2 separate regions of the Homo sapiens genome follow, and region 2 is linked to region 1. Evidence: fine-mapped expression QTL. Tissue or cell type: atrial appendage. Region 1 holds a variant in brackets; the other region holds the start of a gene. All regions are shown on one strand. Distances are between the middles of the regions.

Evidence for each region.
Region 2: it holds the start of SRI, and the variant in region 1 is fine-mapped to the expression of SRI in atrial appendage (GTEx, PIP 0.95).

What each region holds. Positions count from the first base shown.
Region 1 is chr7:88,292,587-88,303,473 of GRCh38, forward strand. All of the region lies in intron 1 of STEAP4 (STEAP4 metalloreductase), which reads right to left. All of the region lies in intron 1 of LOC124901692 (a long non-coding RNA gene), which reads left to right. Among named protein-coding and RNA genes, the nearest start is that of STEAP4, 8.9 kb to the right of the region's middle. The variant G/C (reference allele first, on the strand shown) is at 5,491.
Region 2 is chr7:88,215,070-88,225,956 of GRCh38, forward strand. It overlaps SRI (sorcin), which reads right to left and starts at 4,969. Exons shown (of 8, transcript NM_003130.4): 1 at 4,907-4,969; 2 at 3,790-3,873; 3 at 2,053-2,122. The coding sequence starts at 4,957. It overlaps SRI-AS1 (SRI antisense RNA 1), which reads left to right and starts at 1,591. Exons shown (of 3, transcript NR_120517.1): 1 at 1,591-1,688; 2 at 3,680-4,155. It overlaps LOC124901691 (a long non-coding RNA gene), which reads right to left and starts at 1,515. Exons shown (of 2, transcript XR_007060419.1): 1 at 1,374-1,515. RefSeq lists silencers at 3,955-4,044, 4,692-5,191.

The DNA.
Region 1 (10,887 bases):
TTGACATTGGAGCCATATGCATGTATATTTCCATGTCATTTTATCTCATGTGTATGCTCATGTACCCATCACTTCAATCAGGTTAGAGACTAGACCATCCCTCATGCTGCCCTCTGAACTACCAACCCTAACCCGTGGAGGTCATTAATCTGTTCTTTATCACTACAATTTGGTCATTTTGAGAATGAATAAAATCACACAGTAATGCAAGCCTTTTGAGACTAGCATTTTTTCACTCAGCATAACATACTTAAGATCCATCAATAATTCTTCCATTTTATTGCCGAGCGGTATTCTACAGTATAGATATACTAAAGTTTAACTCTTCATCTAAGGTAGGACATTTTGGTTGTTTCCAGTTTTGGCTATTACAAATAAAGCTTCTATGAGTATTCACCTACAGGTTTTTGTGTGAAAATAAGTTTTCATTTCTCTGCGATAAAGACCCCGGGATACAAATTCTGGGTCATATGGTGTTTGTTTAGCATTCTAAGACTTGGCTATACTGACTTCGAATGTGTACTAATTTACCCCTTACCAGGTATTTATGAGTCATGATTTTTTATTTTAGCCATTCTGATATTTCATTGTGGTTTAAATTTGCATTTGTTTAATGGTTAATTATGTTGCATATCTCTTAATGTGTTTATTTGCTCTCTGTGTGTCCTCTTTGGTGAGAAGTCTCTTCATGTATTTTGCTTATTTTCTAATTGGACTGTTTGGGTTTATTTACTGTTGAGTTTGACAATCTTTATATATTCTACATATGAGTCTTTTGTCAGATATGTGATTTGCAAGCATTTTCTGCCAGCCTATAGCTTGTTTTTTTCATGTCTTAACACATCCGAAGTCATAAAACAAACATTTTTTAATTTGATGATGTCCAATTTATTTAATTTTTTTTCTTTCATGGATTGCGCTTTCAGTATCTTACCCAAAAACTCTTCACAAAGCCCTAGGTCCTGAATGTTTTCTTCTAAAAGTTTTACTTATAAGTCTATGATCCATTTTAAGTAATTTTCATACATAGTGTAAGGTTTAGGACAAGGTTTATTTTTTGACCTATGAATACATAACTACTCTTCTACCATTTGTTGAAAAGACTATCCTTATTTTTTGCTGAATTGCTTTCACATTTTTGTCAAACATCAGTTATACATAGAGGTGTGGGTCTATTTCTGCATTCTCTATTCTGTTCCATTGATCTATGTGTCTATCCCTCTGCCAATACCAACAATGTTGATGGCTGTAGCTTTATAATAAGTCTTAAAATTGGGTACAGTGATTCTTCCCACTATGTTTTTTTTTGAAAACTATTATAGCTACTCTAGTTCCTTTTCAGTCCTATAAATTTTAGAATAATCTTGTCATAAATTTTAAAAAATGTACTTTAAATGCTTAAATTAAAAAAAATGCTTAAAAATATTCCAAAACTTCAATGCAAAGCAGTTCATGTTTTAGGAGAAAAATATAGATGACTGTGCTAAAAAATTAATTCATACAAAAGCATAATAGCAGTGTGTAGATACAGGTTAAGCATCCCTAACCCAAAAATATAAAATCAGAAATGCTCTAAAATCCAAAACTTTCAGACATGATACCACCATTGGATAATTCCACACCTGACTTTATGTGACGGGTTGCAGTCAAAAGCAGTCAAAACTCTGTTTTATGCACAAACCTATTAAACGGTTTGTATAAAATTACCTTTAGGTTATGTGTATAAGGTGTATATGAAACATAAATTTTGTCTTTAGACTTGGGTCTCATTCTCAAGATATCTCATTATGTATATGCAAGTAACTTAAAATGAAAAAAAAAAATCTGAAATCCAAAACATTTCTGGTCCCAAGCATTTCGGTTGTGGGATACTCAACCTGTATCTAATAAATGGGCACAAGTTTAAAGTTATATGATGGACTATATGCATAGATCTCATTTAAATAATAAGTAAAAATCAATTTTGAAGGTCTTTGTGTGTAAGCAGCCTGGGGCCAAATGGTCCCTTTGTCCCTCCCATTCCCTGGAATAGATCCTGTTTCTCATTTCTTTTAGTAATAAGAACAAAGATCAGCAACCTAACCATATCTCTTCTAAATGGTGGTACTTTCTTTTCTTACACTTGGAAAATGGGCCAATTGTTTCCCCCTGAAATTTCATAAAGATAAAAATATATAAATACCTATGCATATAATGCCATTTGTAGAAAAAGAAAAGGCAAGAAAATCTTCCCTTTTCTTTGGTACAGATAGGCCTGGAAGGGAAAATTAGCCTCCATGAATCCCTCTGATTTCTTTTATTTTTAAAAAACACACAAAGTATACAAATGAAGATAGATTTCTTTATGCAAAGACTCAACCATTGTTTATGCACACCATTAGGAGTCTAACTTGTTTCTTAGCTCACCTAATTTTACAAAAATATACAAATTTAAAATGTAAAAAAGTTTTATATGAAAATTTTGGAGGTAATCATTATAAAAACAAGTGTAAAGACAACAGTCTTTCATCAGTTTCAATCATCACAACATAATTTTTAGTAACAGAGAATAGTATGCTGGGATCCGTCATTAGATAAGTAGGCATAGAAGAACCTATCTACAAAGATTGGTTTGGAAGGGTTCAGAAAGAGAGAGGACATGGTGGTGGTACAGACAGACAGATGTTTTCCTAGCACCCTTTCCTGTCTTTAATCATTGAAGCAACTTCTTAGTTGCTTATGAAAATACAAATAACTCTGCAAAGGTCTACACTAAGGCTTATGAAAATGCAAATACCTCTGCAAAGGGTTACACTAGAAACCAGTGGTTCTCAACCCTGGTGCACATGAGAATCAGGTAGAGAGCCTGAAGGCCCAGACTATTGGAGAGTCTGAATCAACTGGTCTAGGGTAGAGCCTGGGCACTTTTTTAAGCTCCCCCAGGTGATTCAAATGTACAGCCAAGCTTGAGAACCATTGCCTTAAAGCTTTTATCAGCTTTTATGTTAGCTTTCACTTAATGGCCTGCTACTGCGGTTCTTCTTCCTGGTAACACATTAGAATCAGCTGAGGAGCCGTTAAAATGCTAGGGAACCACCTCCTGAGATTCTGAATCAATTGATCTGAGGTAGAGCCCAGGCATCTGTATTTTAAAAGCCAAACTAAAACAAACTTAAGCGATTCTGAAGAGCACCCGTTTTGGAGAACCACTGGAGGTGGAAAAAGGTAAAGTTATCTTTTTCTTTTCCTTTTTATTTTGGAGAGGTGTGGTAGGGAGAGGAAAGATAAGAGGAAGAACAGGATGTTAAGGTTGTAAGGAGCTGCAGAAACTTCACCTTCCTTACAATTTTTTCCTCTAAGTCTTCTTTGGCTGAGAAGCTAGAATTCCTCTCTTTTTGAGAACCGGAGGCAAAATGAGTATGTTTTGAGTGTGCAGGCCTTGGAAAAGAGAGAGTTCAAGGTATGCCAGATTCAAGACTTGTCAAACTGTAGGTAAGGTTTGTTCCATAACTCTCTCAAGGAAACCTTAAAGAGTTGTCTTCCAAGAGCCATGAAATTATAATTTGATCAGATCTACTTATACATCTACTCGGTACCCCTAATAGCAACTATCACATAGTACAGCATAATGTGATAACGTGTTACTAATCAGTTGGGTGAAGCCATTAATAAAATCATTCTGCCTCTTTCTCTTTTTGAGAATTCAGCTTTGAATTCTGAAATAATCATTCATCCAAACATCTGAATTCCTCAGACATTATCCCCTCTGGACACATACAACCACTAGTGTAGCACACAAATCAGAGATCTGGCTTGGCACCTTCCAGAGAGTTGAAATGCAAATAACACCTTCAAACTGTTTAAGATGTGACAGGATTTTTTATTTTAATTTAACAGCTGTAAATAGGAGGGTTTTTTTAAAGTCCTTCCTTCTGTTTTATTATTCTTTCTGAATTTCAACCCAAAAGCCCTTGATGACTTGATAACATATTTGTAATGAGCCGAAATCCATCAATCAAATGTTTCCTTTCATCACAAGGCAAAAGGGCAGGAGGGGGTTCTGCAACTATATCAGTCTTCTTGTGATTCACAGCATTTGTTTTAATATATCCCAGGGACAATTAGAAAGCAAAAAATATTAAAAAAAATAAAAACCTTCCATGAAAACACAAACGTATCCAATTTATTCACTGAGCTATTTCTGTATTTAGTGAGATCAAGGCTCCCTAGGGATAACAAACATTCACATTCAACTACATATTCTTTTATTGGCAGGTAGGTATTACTGTAGCAAAATCAGTAGACCTTGGTTTAAAAAGATCACTGATTACAGTTTATTAAAAAAAAGAATGCCCATAATAAATGGCTTTTTCTAACATTTTTTGGACAGTTCAATCTTTAAGCCATATATAAGTCATTTGAAAATATAAATGTATATTTTAAAATTTAGCTTTGTAGTTAGAAGTAGTGCTGTTTGCAAGGGCAATTTCTTCCTGGTGATATTTATGTATAATTTTCAAATTCTTTCTTTTAATATACACATTAACACCTTCCTTCATCAGATATTTATTGATCACCTATTGTGTACCACATGCTATTCTATAGGTTGAGGGTAAAGAGGTGAAGAATACAGATCTCATATAGAGTTTGGAAATGTTATCTCCTTACAAAGTGCTAAGACTGATCTCTGAATTTGTGTGCTTCAAAAACAGTGTGTGTGTACATTATTATAAGAAAGTTGGACAACACACACATAAAAATAAGATAATTTCAGATGGTAGTAAGTGTTCACAAGAATTCAGAGCAGAGTGATGGAATAGAAAATGTTGGGAGGAGACAGAGAGGGAGACTAGTTTTGAGAACTGTTTAGCATAAATCTCTCCAAGGAGGTGCCAGTCAAGTGAGGGTTGCCAGATTTAGCAAATAAAAATACATAATGCCGATTAAACTCAAATGTCAGATAAACAATGAATACTTTTTTAGTGTAAGTATATCCCCTGCAATATTTGGGACACATTTGTACTAAAAACACAAATGTGTTTTAATATGAAATTCAAGTTTGAGTGGGCATCATGTATTTTATCTGGCAACCTTAAATCAAGCTGAGACCTGACAGGCAAGAAGGAGTTTGCAGGTGAGTTTTCCAGGCAGGGGGGAAAGTGAGTGCATATGTATGAACTAACTGTGGTAGCAAAGGGCAACCCTTACAAAAATACAGCTGCTCCTCAATTTATGATGGGGTTACATCCCAATAAGCTCATAATAAGTTGAAAACATTGTGACAGAAATGCAGTTTATACACCTAAACTGCCCACATTTTAGCTTGGCCAAGCCTACCTTAAATATGTTCAGAATACTTAATTAGCTTACAGTTGGGCAAAATCATCTAACATGAAGCCTATTTTATAAGAAAGTGTTGATTATCTCATGTAATTTATTGAATACTGTATTGAAAGTGAAAAACAGAATGTTTGCTTGGGTACTCAAAGTATGGTTTCTCCTGAGTGCATA[G/C]TGCTATCGTGCCATTGTCAAGTAAAAAAATCTTAAGTTGAACCATTAACTTACATAAGTTGGGGACAATCTGCCCTCCATTTAAAATAGCCTAATTTGCAACTAGATTAGTAAAGAAGCTATTACTGACATTTAAAGATAATTTAATAGCTGGGTCATATGAAATGAAAGATTATGAAATGCTTTTATATATTTGTAGCTCTTTTTAACTGAGTGAGAATTGGAGAATGTGGTCAGAGGAACAGGGTCCACTGGAAAGAAACTTCAAGCTTGTGTATTAGTATCCCTTTTTAATTGAATGTCAACTAGAACTAAGATAAACTCTTCTGATATTAAAATATAATTTGATTAGAAATTTAAATTCTAATTACATCAAACTGGTTCTTGTAAACACACACACACACACACACACACACACACACACACACACACACCTTTTACTCCAGGGGGAGAGGAACTTGAGTTAAAGAGAGCAAAAGCTTATCCAAACTAATTTTCAGAACCTACATCTAATTTCTTAGACATGTGCACTTCTCATAAGTTCATATTGCTGCCCATTCTCTTACTATCAGTTTAAGTAAAAATTAGAGCAATCCTGTAGCATGATAAATCATCAACTTGTGATTTCCAAAATAAGTTCTAGTAACTACTTAAGTTACTAATTGCTATAGATTAATATAAATATATCATTTAAAGCTCTTTTTCTACATAAAGAAACTACTTCAGGTTGGTTGCTAAAAAACTGATTATTTCAATTGTTTTGTGAGAAAATGTTTTGTATCCCATAGCAACTGAATTTGCTGATTATTTTTTATGCTAGACAATAGAATGGCACACAAAAACACAGTAATCTTAACTTGCACAGTTTCATCAAGTCACAAGAGCATAATTAAAGGCAATCTTTACATTAATGTTCTATAGAGATGTATCCTACATGAATTGCTAACAACTAGCTATGAACTAACTATGTCATATGCGGCAACTAAAGTGATTGTTAGTAATATTTTACTAACACTATAAATTATGAGGAAAGTGAGGTAATAGAGATCTATGTTAACTATTTTAATTGTATTTTAGGATAAACTTATTTATCTTAAATTTAGGTTCTTTGTCGAAATTCTAGTTCAATTAAAAATCTCATTAATACATGTTGCCACATTTCGATCTCAGCAGTATCTGTCAAGATAAATTAAGATTGTTTTATAATTCTCTGGCCAAGAATTTCATCAGGTAGGTTCATTATCTGCTGTCCAAGCTGGTTAGTTTATCTGATTAAAGCCCAGGACTCATGACAACAAGGTCAGGGATTCAGTCGTGTCTCTGGGTTAATTTACCTTGACTTCCATTTACATTTTAAATCCTGAACAACTTCTTACAAATCTGTGGGTCACCAAAGATTAGGCATCTGGTCATGACCAGGACCAGTGGATTGCCACTATCAGAAAAACAGCTCTATCTCATGGCTTTGGTGGCATTTGGCTTGTACATACTACATAAGCATTTGCTTAATCTGATGATCTGCATCAACTCCCCTAATATTTAGTGTTCATTAGTGGGTTTTGCTTTTCTAGGTCTATTGTGGTCAGAGATATTTGGGAAGTAATTTGTAATTTCAATTTTGAATTAACTTTGTTCAAATAAAATTTCTTAAGAATGGGCATTTATCTTTAGATTAAGGCCAATAGGAATTATCTAAATATCAATAACTGCCAGTTAGTTTGGAGAAAGCAGTTTTGTTGTGGATCTTGACCCCACCCCCATTCCTTGCTGTTGGAGGAACTCCATTCTGCTTTAAGGTATCTCCCAACCATTTTTAGAAATCTCTGGGGGCAGTCCACAATGCTTATGAATATAGCCTACTTCATCTTCTTTTGGGTAACTTCTAATACGGCACTCAGAGGCAAGGACTCCCCATGGCCCCAGTGCCTCTGATGTTTGCTGAGACCCATCAGATGGAGCTGCTGGCTATAATCTGGCCTTGCAGCTGCTCCATTTCTGACCTCAGGGGAGAAAGTGCTCTTGAAATTCCTTCTTCTAACCTTTTGTAATATTCTGATATACAAGCTTGAGAGCATTGCTAGTTGATAAATATTTTAAAATAAACAGCTCTTTCTTTTTAGTTTCAAGGTTTTTATTTTATTTTAGTTTTTGAGACATACTCTTGCTCTGTCGCCGAAGCTGGAGTGCAGCGGTGTGATCTCAGCTCACTGCAACCTCTGCTTCTTGGGTTCAAGTGATTTTCATGCCTCAGCTTCCTGAGTAGCTGGGATCACAGGTGCGTGCCACCATGTCCAGCTCATTTTTTTTTGTATTTTTAGTAGAGACTGGGTTTCACCATGTTGGCCAGGCTGGTTTCAAACTCCTGGCCTCAAGTAATCAGCCCCTCCCTCCACATCCCCTATGCCACTTTGCCCACCTTTGGCCTCCCAAAGCGCTAGAATTACAGGTATGAGCCACTGTGCCTGGCCTAGTTTTCAGGTTTTTAATCTCAGCCTTTCAGTGGTGTGGCTGTGGCCAGCTTGCCAGCTGGGAGCTTGAAATCAGTCACAGTAGGAGTTTTTACCTTATGACAATCACCAAGTGCTACAAATCAGGACTTTTTTTTTCCTTAGAGAGGCATTTACCAACATACCACTGGTTCTTCCCCTGCTTCTTTTACCCTTTTCCCCAAGACTCTGGAATGTGACCACAAAAATGGGAAAATATTTGGGCTGATGGGATAATACCATTTTCCCAGTCCTGGCTGAATCTGAGCATAAATCTATTTTCTTATGGCCTCACCTTCTTACAAGGCTCCTAAGTTCTTTAGGAAAACAGAATCCTTGTGGTTTCCCTACCCCAACAAAGGTTCCAGACCCTCTCTACCTCACACATGGCATCAACACAATTTTAGCTATAAACCTGATAGCTTTAGACTCTTGGTTCCCTAAGGGAGATAGATACAGGGACCCATCTGTGTACCACCATCCCCAGCACGTATTTTAAAGTTATTCAGACACACCTCAGAACTAGGGTAAGTGCAGTTTAGGATCTCAACTATGAAAACCAGAGGCAACTGGCACACTTTCATTATTAACTGCAATGAACCATTTACCAACCAGCTAATTGCTTTCTCCTCAATCTCCTCCCATTTCTTGTGCCACTTATGTCAGGGAATTGAATAGGATGAATAAATCACTTTAGTACTTTGGTACTGGAGAAGAGCATATCATTCTTAGACAGGGTCTTGCTCTGTCACCCAGGCAGGAGTGCAGTGGCATGATCATGGCTCATGCAGCCTTGACCTCCCAGGCTCAAGAGATCTTCCCACTTCCGCCTCCCAAGTAGCTGAGACTACATGTATGCACTACTACACCTAGCTAACGTTTTAATTTTTATTTTTTGTAGAGATGGGGTCTTACCATCGCCCAGGCTAGTCTTGAACTCCTGGTCTCAAGTGATTCTCCTACCTCAGCCTCCTAAAGTGCTGGGATTATAGGTGTGAACCACTGCACCTGGCCCCATATCACTTTTTTTTTTTCCAGACAGCTGGAGTGCGGTGGTGCCATCCTCTACCTCCTGGGTTCAAATTATTCTCCCACCTCAGCCTCCTGGGTTCAAACTATTCTCCCACCTCAGCCTCCCAGGTAGCAGGGACTACAGGTGTGCACCACCACGCCCAGCTAATTTTTGTATTTTTGGTAGAGATGTGGTTTCACCATGTTGGCCAGGCTCATCTTGAACTCCTGAGCTCAGGCAATCCGCCCGCCTCAGCCTCCCACAGTGCTGGGATTACAGGCGTGAGCCGCCGTGTTTGGCCCCATATCACTCTTTAAAACGAATTAGAATACAAAATATTACAAATAAATTTGTAACTACAATACAGTATAGCAACATAATAGGGACACTAAATCAGGAAATACCAAGGTTCCTGCAGTTTCTTCTACTTTAAATAAAATGTTATAATAATTTCAACTATTCACTTTATATGTGCTATACAGTTCAAAGCAACCTCATGCCTCTCCCTGAATGGTAGGAAGTTAAAATGTGGACTTTGCCACTGCACTTTGACCCTGTTAACTAATATTGTGCAGGCAGCATCCATACTCATTATGTACTATGTCCATAAGGTAAGTATCTTCCAAAAATAAAAATCAGTGTTATTAGCAATGCCTTGCTTTCAACAGAGATTTATTGAATAGCCACACTAAGAGGGATAAAGTGAGAAACGAGATGGACCCTGTCCTCAAGGAGCTTTGGTCTTGGGAAAGATGAAGCATATAATCAAATTGTTGCAATGCATAGTGTAATGGCCAGAGCAGACGAATGTGTAGAGAGGATGGGCGCCTACAGGCTAGGAGGGACTTGAATCTGCCAGGAAGCGGAACAAGTAAGTTTTCCAAAGTCTGTGCAAAAGTTTTGCAGCCACAATTTAACTTGAGCTCAAAACTGTTTTCACACCCTGTAAAAAGAGCAGGTATAGATGAAAGATGAACAATCAGCGATGACCATTAATTATCCCTTCCTATTTCTACGCTCCACAGTGCTGGTGCCATCAGCTCTCTGAGCCCTGGCTCTGTTCTTAATGCATTTTTTTTTCCTTAATATTGGGTGCTGGCCAGGTGCGGTCACTCACGCCTGTAATCCCAGCACTTCGGGAGGCCAAGACAGGCAGATCACTTGAGGTCAGGAGTTGAAGACCAGCCTGGCAAAAATGGCGAAACCCCATCTCTACTAAAAATGCAAAAATTAGGTAGGCTTGGTGGTGCATGCCTTTAATTCTAGCTACTCAGGAGGCTGAGGCAGGAGAATTGCTTGAGCCCAGGAGATGGAGGTTGCAGTGAGCTGACATCGCGCTACTGTACTCCAGCCTGAGTGAAGGAGTGAGACTGTCTCAAAAAAAAAAAAAAAAAAAAAAAATTGGGTGCTGAGGCCAAACTGACTAGCTTGTATTCTACTAATAATCTTCCAAGAGCTGTGCTATATAGTTTTATTTTCTTTTAGCCTTCTTTTTATTTAGAATTATAGTTCCTAACTTTTCAAAATTACTCTTTGCAAACATTTTCCTTCCTTTTAAGATGAAAAGGGAACTTTATCCTGATGTTAGGATTGATCATATAATCTGCATTAAAAAAAAAAAAAAAAAAAAAAAAACTCCAACCGGGCGCGGTGGCTCACACCTGTAGTCCTAGCACTTTGGTAGGCCAAGGCGGATGGATCACCTGAGGACCGGAGTTCCAGACAAGCCTGGCCAACACGGCGAAACCCCTTCTCTACTAAACATAAAAAAATTAGCTGGGCATTGTGGTGGGCACTTATAATCCCAGCTACTCAGGAGGCTGAGGCAGGAGAACTGCTTGAACCCAAGGAGCAGAGGTTGCAGTGAGGCAAGATCCTGCCACTGCACTCCAGCCTGGG
Region 2 (10,887 bases), 78 kb before region 1:
GAGTATCCCACCTGCTCATCCAATTCGGACCTGTGCTTTTTGGTTTGGAAGTTGGGTTTAAAAGACTAATGGCCATATAATATCTGCATTACAAAACACTGACACCTCATAGGCAGGATGGTTCTGTGGTTCAGTACGGCCACCAGAGAGTAGGCAAATGGATTCAATCACATAGGCCCCATGATTCAGGAAATGCTTTCTCTTTAATGCATTGATCTAAGGCCATCACTAAATGTGGCTTTCTCAATGAAATTTTAAAAGGACTGCTCTCTAACAATATACAACCCATTTTGTTAGTCAGATTCTAAAATCTGCCACACCTCATCTACTGAAAGGATGTAGAATAACAGGCCATGCTGTGATCTCACTGCACTTTGATAAACCCTGCTAATAGGCAGGCCTACCTTGTTTACCAGCTCAATTGCGTAACAATTAACAATTTAAATGTACTGCCTACACAGTAAAGAATAACATCCCCTAATCCAAAAAGTGCTTATTTTGTTTAGGACTAGATTAAATAACAGGAACTTGAAAGGTTCTTCGTTTGTATTAATTCCTCTAATTAGGAAAGAGTAATAGGATACTAAAGTCACATAAAACAAAGGATAATGAAAACAAATGCAAAGAGTTCAAAGACAGCCATCTAATACATGCCATGTCAAATAGTTTTTAAAAAAAGGCCACTATAAATTCACAGCTGTGAATTCTAGTTTGAACATTTTAATCCACAGCTAACCATGAAATTGGGTCTTCAATTTGATGTTTTGTCTCAATTAACAACTGGCAAAGAAGTTGGTAATGTATTTGAACTAAGACATTATTCTCTACCCTGGAAATCTATCATGTTCAAGATCTAATTTCAAGAGGAACCACTTCATATGTGTTGGATGATGAGAAGCCCCCAGTTGGGATGCAGCAATTTTTTGGATTTTCTGAGACAGGCTGTCACCCAGGCTGGAGTGCAGTGGCACAATCTTGGCTCACTGCAACCTCCGCCTCCTGGGCTTGTATAATCCTCCCACCTCAGCCTCCTGAGTAGCTGGGACCACAGGTGCATGCCACCATGCCTGGCTAATTTTTAAATTTTTTGCAGAGACAAGGTTTCACTATGTTGCCCAGGCTAGTCTTGAACTCCCGGGCTCAAGCAATCCTCCCACCTCAGTCTCCTAAAGTGCTGGGATTACAGGTGTGAGCCACTGTGCCCTGCCAGGGATGGAGCATCTTTGCAGTATTTCATTACTCTCAGCTCATGGCAGAGTGTTCAAAAGGCAGGGGTAGGGTAAGGGCTGAATTATGGAGCAGCAGGTCCAGTAAGTAGAAAGGCCACTTCCCACTTAGCCTGAATACATTCTATGAAGTGGAAGAGGAAAGACCTGAGGGATGTCATGGCAACCACTTATGTTAGCAGGAGCATGCCCAAAGCTCAGAGACCAGGAGTGCAGGATAGGCCACTCAGGGACCAGGGGTGCAGGGCAGCAACTCAAAGCCCTAAGTGCCACCAGGTCAGGGCAGAGTAGGCTCTTGGCAAATAACAGTAAATATCAGTTCCTAATGTCAGTTAATGACCCCTGACCTGGCAGATTCCATTTCAGCACCCTACCTTGTCCTCTGTGAAGGAGGCCACCCAAACTGTCTCACTGGTTCTAGGTACACAAAACCCAAATCTGAGAAATCCACTAGATTGGCAGGTAGGATGGAATAATTTATTATTATTATTATTTTAAAGACAAGGTCTTGCTCTGTTGCTCAGGCTGGAGTGCAGTGGTACAATCATAGATTACTGCAGCCAAAAACTCTTGGCTTCAAGCGATCCTCCTGCCTGGGCCTCTGAAGTACTGGGATTACAGGTGTGAGCCACTGTGCCCAGCCTGGAGTGATTTAAAAACTGTTTTCAAATCAACATTTTGAAATAGTACTGTATTTTAGCTTTCGGAATTCTAAACTTTGCTAGATCCGACAAGCTCAGTTTTCTTGAAGGCTGTAATCACAAGTAACAGCTAAGATAGGAAACACAAGAGTATATTTAGACAAACTTTGGGACTGTCAACTTACGTTTGTATCCTCCAGCAATGCCAGACTGTGTCAGACATCTCTGCAATTCATCAGCATCTATCTGCCCATCCTTTTGAAAAAAAATTAGAGGAATCATAATAGTGATTTGTACTTTCAAGTTGTTTACCTTCAGCATTCAATGAAGCAATAACAACAAAGAAAATCAGTATCTTTTTTTTATTTAAAAGGAATGCCTTTTTTTTATTAAAAGGAATGCCTTCCAAAAGTGGGCATTCTTTTCCTTAACCCACTTCCAAAAGTAATTTAATGATGAAAGAAAGAGTCTGTCTTGGCAACTACTCTTCTCTCAATCTGAGCTAGCAAACTGCTACAGCTAAACATTTTAAAATATTTTTTTTTGATGGGGGTGGAGAGAGCAAGGTACAAAGCAGACATCAATAAATAGAAGGCTTGGTTCAAACAGAAAAAGGCCTCCTTGGTCACTTTTTCTTATGATATAGTGAATCATTTTTTTCAGAGCACAAATACATCTGGAAGATTCACATTAGGTTCCCAGTGCCCATTCACTGGCTGAACTGGGAAAGAACTAGATATATGTGATTTTTAGGGACTTTAAAATAAAATACCTAAATCTTCAAGTCACTGGGTATTATAAGTTATAAATGAGGAGCAAGATCAGCAATTTGAAAGACAATGGGTATGCTGAATACAGGCCAGGGCTGCTGAAAGCTAAGCAGGTGGAGTCACTTACATGCTGGAGGCACTGGCAATCTAAGAATGCTAGTCTTGAGGTTTGCCATGCCTTGTGGTTTCAAAGATACAGATCATTAACAGTTTAAGTAGATACTTAAGGGGAAGGTCTTCCAGTTTTAGACTATATTTTCCATTCAATTTCTTAAGCTGTATTTCTTAGAGTACTACCTTAAAAGTGGTCTTAGGTTTTTTATCCCATAATATTCTACAGTTTTCACATTAAGATTTTGCTATTTCTAGCTTTTGGTCAAAACAAAACTAGGTTGAATTCATAAGAACAAACATCTCCTCTGGACGTGTCTGGGTTATACCAACAGTATATTTACTGCACACAGTGACCTCATGAACTAGGGAAGTGTCCTCTCTCAATGTAAGATAGCACCTGTCAATGTAAGATAGCACCTGTCATACAACTCAGAATGCAGACAAGTGAAAGGTCTTGGGGAGCTGACCTTAATTGCTTCTCTGGGTCAACAGGCCAGAACACCTAATAAGGACATGGAGGGGCTGACCTAGTAACAGCATCTGCATCAAAGAGAAACTACACTGTTCACAAGATTAACTTTCTGATACTAAGAAGGGAACAGTAACTTCCTTATTTAGAAGCTGGTGGGTTTTTACCATATTTCCTAAGGGGGTGAATGATTAGCAATCAAGTTCAACCCAAAGAAAGTGCCCATTAGAATCGAGCTATGTAATTACTAATATATGTCTTTAAGTTGTACAAACAAGCGTTTATATTTACCAGATCTTGAATTTTTTCGCTTGAAACCATCCTGGACCCTTTAATTCAACCACAAGTTTGCTTTCGAACTGAACTCACATAAATACGAGTAACACTTTGTCCTCATTTATTCTGAACATTCAGAAATAAAAAACTAAAATAAGAAACAACTTTTTTTTTCTTTTGCAGAAGCAAAGGGACTCAGTACCACAGGAAGTTCGCTTTTCTGTGTCACTATATCAAAAGCTACCACAAATGCAGACAATAACGGCTCTTTAATATTAAAGGGAAAAGCTAACCTGTCCAGCTACAGCAGCAAAGTAACCATACAGCGGATCCTGAGTTTGTCCGGGAAACGCAGGCCCTCCGGGAGCCCCTCCATACTGTGAAACAGGAAACACATACACGTCATTCTGCCGAATCAAGTTTTCTTCTTTCACCACTGAGGGCTTTTGTGCAAGGCCAGACAACTGCCCGCCTGCCCGCCCTTCACAAGGCTCACCTCCCCACCACCGGGCACACTCTGCCAACACTCCACCCCTCTCTTCCATTCACACCCCGTAATTTAAAAACTGGCGACTTAGACCATAAAGAGTTGCTGTGAAAGTGATGTCTACATATGTAAAGCAACTTTTAAAATCCCTATTAACCTGAAGGTTACTGAGGTGAGTGCAAACTAGGTAAGCCAACGAATGGCAGGGCTTCAAATTCTCCTTTTGTTGTTACAGCATTTATGGTATTTTAAGAGCGTTTTATGAACGATGGAAGGCTGGAGTTGGTAACATTCTGAGACGGGTGTAGCCTAGGGAAGAGTAAGGTGTCCGGCCGGGCTGTATCTCGTGGGTGGCGAGGGAACATTGCCTGTCTCGGAAACAGTTCCCAAGACAACGCGCATCCCAGACGCCCGGCGAGGCTGCCTTCCTACAGGTCTTTTACTTCAGCAGGTTTTCCCTTTTTTTCCGTCCCCCTTCTCACTCGTTTTTTGTTTGTTTGTTTGTTTGTTTGTTTGTTTGTTTTTTAAAGGGAGGAAGGTATATCATTCTAGAATAAAATGACTGTTGTTGCTCTGGGAGGCAACCAAGAAGGCGGGGGTGGGGTGGGGTGGGGGTCAGCCAACACCCAATTAACACGATTTCACGCCGCGTATCCGAGAAGCCGCAGGGTGGGCTTCTAGGGTCCCAATCCACCCTCACCTTGGCCCCGCAGGGCCATCCAGGAGAAGGGACGGGGAAACGTGGGGAGAGGCCGAACCCCAGGGGCCTAGGGCGAGGCCGCGAGCGCAGGGAGAAGCCGAGGGCGGAAGGAGCCCGGGTAGCCGCCCAGCAGCGCCTCACCCCGCTGGCCGCAGCATCTCCAAGGTGGCCTCTTAGCGCCCCGGAGCCGCCTGGGCCGCGATCCCGCGCAGTCAGCACTTACCCCGCCTGGGTAGTACCCGCCGCCGGCGCCAGGATGCCCCGGGTACGCCATGCTGCAGACTGCGCCGCAGCCGCCCTCGCCCTGTGCGCCAGGCCTCTCCGCCCCCTGCCCCGCCCCGCCCTGCCGCTAGGGGGCCGCCCCAGAGCGCACCACGCGGGCGTGGGGGACGCGCTCCGCAGTCGTCTCCAGCTCTTGCCTGTGCGCGCGGCCGTGGCTCCCCTGCCTGCGCGCTTCTTCGTATCTTTGCCATTACGGCGCTAATGCAGTGCACGACTGAAGGTCCAGTGGCGGCCTACGACCTGCGAGGCAATTCACACCAGGGACTTTCCTCCCTCCAAAACTAATGGCACATTCCAACACCAATACACCACCCCAGGAATTCTTTTTTTTTTTTTTTCCTTCGGACTTGGCTATTATCTGGCACATTTCTTATTTTAAACAACTTTATTGGACAGGACGGAGCTATTATAAGCGGAGCGCACCATCGCGAGGCAGGGGCTGGATGCGTTAGGGCAAGCCTTAGGTGCCAGTGGGTGAAGGAGTCTTTGAAAGATGGAAATACGAAAGCGCCCTTGGAAAATAAGAATTAACTTGACGAACTGTGTGCAAGGGAGAGTTTGGCTTGCTGTTGGTTGCAGAGTTCACTGAACGACAACGGCGTATTTCCTTCCTAGGGGACAATTCCTTGCCTGTTTAAGCTGAGCGTGACTTGTGTCCTGAGTAGGACAGAGGGCATTTTCCGGGCAGGACAGACTCACACATATCGTTCTTAGGAAAATGAATTGTTTGAATTATCTGGATGATTCAGACAAAACAATCCATTTCCCTAAAAGTATTCAGCTACTTTTTATATAAGAAAAGTTTAGAACAAACTAATAGTGTACTGGTAAGTATTCAGGAAGATAAGAGATAGGAACTTCTATGTAGGTTATTCTTCTTTACTTCATATATTTTTCTATCTTCCAGTTGAATAGTCCGAAGCAATTCAGGCGTGAGCTTTTTGTTTTGTTTTGTGTAATTTCAATGACAGAAAATTGCTTGCCCTTCACTGTTAAGGACTAGACTTAATGATTTCCTGAATTTTAACGTATTGAGAAACGCATTAATAAGCAAGATTCACAGTATTTGTTGTGGAGGTTGCACAGAAACATTTAAAGGGTCATCAACATTTCACAAATATTGGAGCACCCGCCAATGTGGTACTGTGCTTTTTCGCTGTGGTGGACGGGCTTCCTCCATTCTAAATTCGTGGGCTATTGTCCTCATTCGGTTCATTGTTTTTCTCTTGTGTGTAACTTCCCTCGCAAGCCCTTTTGAAAACCAAAGTCCGAATTGTGAGAAAAATTCTAATAGTCCCTGTTGTGGCATAGCAAAGACACTGCATGTTGCCTGTTTTGTGTTTGATTCAGGAAGCAGGTTACTGTTTTCAATCATCAAGGTAGCAATCATCAAGGTAGATGAGACATCTAATGAGTCCCCTGGTCTCTCTTTGGAAGCCTGTTTCTTCAGAAAGAGGTAACCGACTATAAAGAGTAGATGTCAGGGCCGAACTCGATGTTGAGTACAAGCTCAAGACTCAAGTTTGAAAGAAGTATAAAGCATATAAAATATTTTTAAGTACTGCAGAATTAGCTTCGTGGATAAACGGCTATACGAATTGGCATATCAGTTGTCCTTAGACATCTTCCCACTGCTTTACTGCTAAAGAATTGAATTTTTTTTTTAATTACACTTTAAGTTTTAGGGTACATGTGAACATTGTGCAGGTTGGTTACATATGTATACATGTGCCATGCTGGTGCGCTGCACCCACTAACTCGTCATCTAGCATTAGGTATATCTCCCAATGCTATCCCTCTCCCCTCCCCCCACCCCACCACAGTCCCTAGAGTGTGATATTCCCCTTCCTGTGTCCATGTGATCTCATCGTTCAGTTCCCACCTATGAGTGAGAATATGCGGTGTTTGGTTTTTTGGTCTTGCGATAGTTTACTGAGAATGATGATTTCCAATTTCATCCATGTCCCTACAAAGGACATGAACTCATCATTTTTTATGGCTGCATAGTATTCCATGGTGTATATGTGCCACATTTTCTTAATCCAGTCTATCATTGTTGGACATTTGGGTTGGTTCCAAGTCTTTGCTATTGTGAATAATGCCGCAATAAACATACGTGTGCATGTGTCTTTATAGCAGCATGATTTATAGTCCTTTGGGTATATACCCAGTAATGGGATGGCGGGTCAAATGGTAATTCTAGTTCTAGATCCCTGAGGAATCGCCACACTGACTTCCACAATGGTTGAACTAGTTTACAGTCCCACCAACAGTGTAAAAGTGTTCCTATTTCTCCACATCCTCTCCAGCACCTGTTGTTTCCTGACTTTTTAATGATTGCCATTCTAACTGGTGTGAGATGGTATCTCATAGTGGTTTTGATTTGCATTTCTCTGATGGCCAGTGATGATGAGCATTTTTTCATGTGTTTTTTGGCTGCATAAATGTCTTCTTTTGAGAAGTGTCTGTTCATGTCCTTCGCCCACTTTTTGATGGGGTTGTTTGTTTTTTTCTTGTAAATTTGTTTGAGTTCACTGTAGATTCTGGATATTAGCCCTCAAACTATACTACAAGGCTACAGTAACCAAAACAGCATGGTACTGGTACCAAAACAGAGATATAGATCAATGGAACAGAACAAAGCCCTCAGAAATAACGCCGCATACCTACAACTATCTGATCTTTGACAAACCTGACAAAAAGAAGAAATGGGGAAAGGATTCCCTATTTAATAAATGGTGCTGGGAAAACAGGCTAGCCATATGTAGGAAGCTAAAACTGGATCCCTTCCTTACACCTTATACAAAAATCAATTCAAGATGGATTAAAGATTTAAACGTTAGACCTAAAACCATAAAAACCCTAGAAGAAAACCTAGGCATTACCATTCAGGACATAGGCATGGGCAAGGACTTCATGTCCAAAACACCAAAAGCAATGGCAACAAAAGACAAAATTGACAAATGGGATCTAATTAAACTAAAGAGCTTCTGCACAGCAAAAGAAACTACCATCAGAGTGAACAGGCAACCTACAAAATGGGAGAAAATTTTCGCTACCTACTCATCTGACAAAGAATTGAATTTTAATGGAGTGTTGCAAATTCAATTCTTACAATTATTGCTAACAAATTGGTCAGCTGCTAATACTTTAGTTTGCTGGAAAAAATTGTGGCAACTTATAATACCATCAGACATATATATAATAATAAAAATATGCCAGATCCTCATCGCATTTTACTTATTTGCTTAATCTTAATAAAAACCCATGGGATAGGTACTATTGTCATTCCTATTATACAGTTTTGAGGAAGGGGAAGGAACAGAACAGAGCTGAGCTATGCTGCCAAGCCATCTGACTCTAGAGTCTGTGCTCTACACCCAGGGGCAGGTAAAGGGCCAGGTAGTAAATATTTTAGGCCTGTGGGCCATACAGTCTCTGTATGAGAGAGTCTACATACATAGTGGTATGTAGACTATGTAGTCATAGTGGTATGGCCAAATACCACTCAACTCTGCTGTGTAGGCCACAAGTATCCATAGACAATAGATAAATGAATGGATGTCGCTGGGTTCCAATGCAACTTTATTTATAGACACTGAAATTTGAATTTCATATGACATGAAATATTATGCTTAATTTTATTTTTCCAACCATTTAAAAATGTAAATATTATTCTGAGCTCTTGGATGTACAGAAATAGGAGGTGGGTCAGATTTGGCCTTTGGGCAGTAGTTTACCAACCACTGCTGGAAGCCCCTCCAGAATGCGGGCTTATGACTCTGGCAGTTTAGCACTTTAGCAAATGATTTGCTGACTGTAAGATAAAGCCTATGGGTAGAATACAGTTATTTGTCAGAACGATTTACTAAGTCCTAAAAAAAAGACTGTAGGAGGGTTGTGACAACAGCATGGGTTAGGGAGAGAACTATGTGAGGTTTATAGATAGGATGCAGGTCATGGTTATTTTGGGAAGTCATTGGAATTACAGAAACCTTTCTGATCATATACTCCAATCCTGCTGTTTACAGAAGAAAAGACCAAGGCTGAGAGATGGCAAATATCTGGCCCCAGCTCTTGAAGAGCAGACCTAGCCAGATGTAGATATTTCACCCTTCCCAATTAAAGCTGTGACAGTAGATAAACATGCTCTCAGAGAGAATCCCATTCTTTTGTGGTACACCTTCCCTAATTATGTTTTCAAGACAAACGGCAGTGTGGACACTTTCTTATTCCTGGAGAAAAGTTAATATAAAGCTCTACATATAGTATCCAACCTGGACTTCTTCGCTCAGATAAGTGGTGAAAGAAATAGTGTCTAACTAAGTAACTGTAGTTATTTCACCATACCTGCAGTTGAATTAACCATAGGTCTTCACTTGTTAGGAAGAAATGAGCAATGACATTTGCCAATTTAAAGTTTCAATTTTTGTTTAGTTCTGATCTGGGTGTGGCACCTCATGATTTAAAGACCTCTGCCTTAGAGAGAAGCTCAGATCTCCAAATGTAAGTGGAAATGAGCATTTGATAACAACATAGGTAACCAATTAATAGTATCTCCACTTTCTTAAGATTGTTGGGAAAGAGTGTGAAGCCTATGATGTTCATTTGGGAATAAAAGCCACCCTTTTTCTTGAACTGTCCGGAGTAAGAGCTCAGTTAATCATGCTATTATGTAATTTTTTCAAGGGATAGAAAACTTCCACTATTGATGTTTTAGTGCTTGCATGTAGAGTTTAACTGGTCCCTGGCATATTGTAGATGGTAATGAATCATCAACCACAGCTCTTCAAACAACTTCTGCTACAATAGAAATGTTTGATAACTATGCCACACAATAACTAATCACATATGGCTATTGAGCCTGTGAAATGAGGAACTAAAATTTTAATTTAGTTTAATTTAAAATGGAATAGCTGTGTGGCTAGTGCTACCCTCTTGAACAGCACAGGGACCCTTTCATCTGTGTTGGCTTCCTCCTCCCTGGAACTCAGAGAAAGCAAACTCATTCTACTTGCCTGGAATAGGCATGATAAGCAAGATAAATCAGTTATTAACAAAACACAGCAAGGGCAGTCATCAGCTCTGTGACAAACGTTCCCATGTTCCTGTTCCTACAGAATAGATTCTCACTGACCTGTTCCTTCCCTTAATGAAGCTCTGAGCTGGAGTTGATGATCAGGATTAACCAGGAAGCTGATGTTGGAGGAATTTATTATGGCTAAATATATATGCCTATATACATATATGTGTATGTATGTATATCATTGTACATATGTAAATATATGTGTGTATTTTTACAAACACACACACACTTTATATATATACTTTCTTATCATTAGGGCTGTCAAAAATGACCTTCCAAAGATGAGTTCCCCATCACTAGAAGTGATCAAGAAGAGGCTGTCAGTGATGCTAAAGGGCAGTTTTGTACTTTGAGTAGGGGCCTGGATGAGTTAATGCTCTATGGACTACAAAGTATTTTCTGATGGCCTACTTAAACTTTACCCAGCCATGCCAGTTAGATTATTTCTACTTTACAAGATGAGGAAACTGAGACTCTGACTTGCTGAAGGTTACCAGACTAATAGCAATTCCAGTATTAATTGCTTATCTTGTCACTTCAGATCTTTTCTCAACCTCACGCTATTCTCTCAGGACTCTTCCTTTTAAGATTATGCAATTTCTATTGGATCAAGAATTTGGAGACATTGTTTTTTCTTTTCCTGAACAGAATGTGTTTCAGAAATCAGAATATTAAATTTAAAGCAATTGTCTAAAATAATGTACATCTAGGTAATGCTATTACTATCAATGATAAGAGTTCATTTTAGTGCAGATAATTATTTTTTGATGAACAAGATGTAAATATGCATGGCTAAAGGGGTAGCTAAAGGGAGGTCAAGAAATGAATGCAAGAAC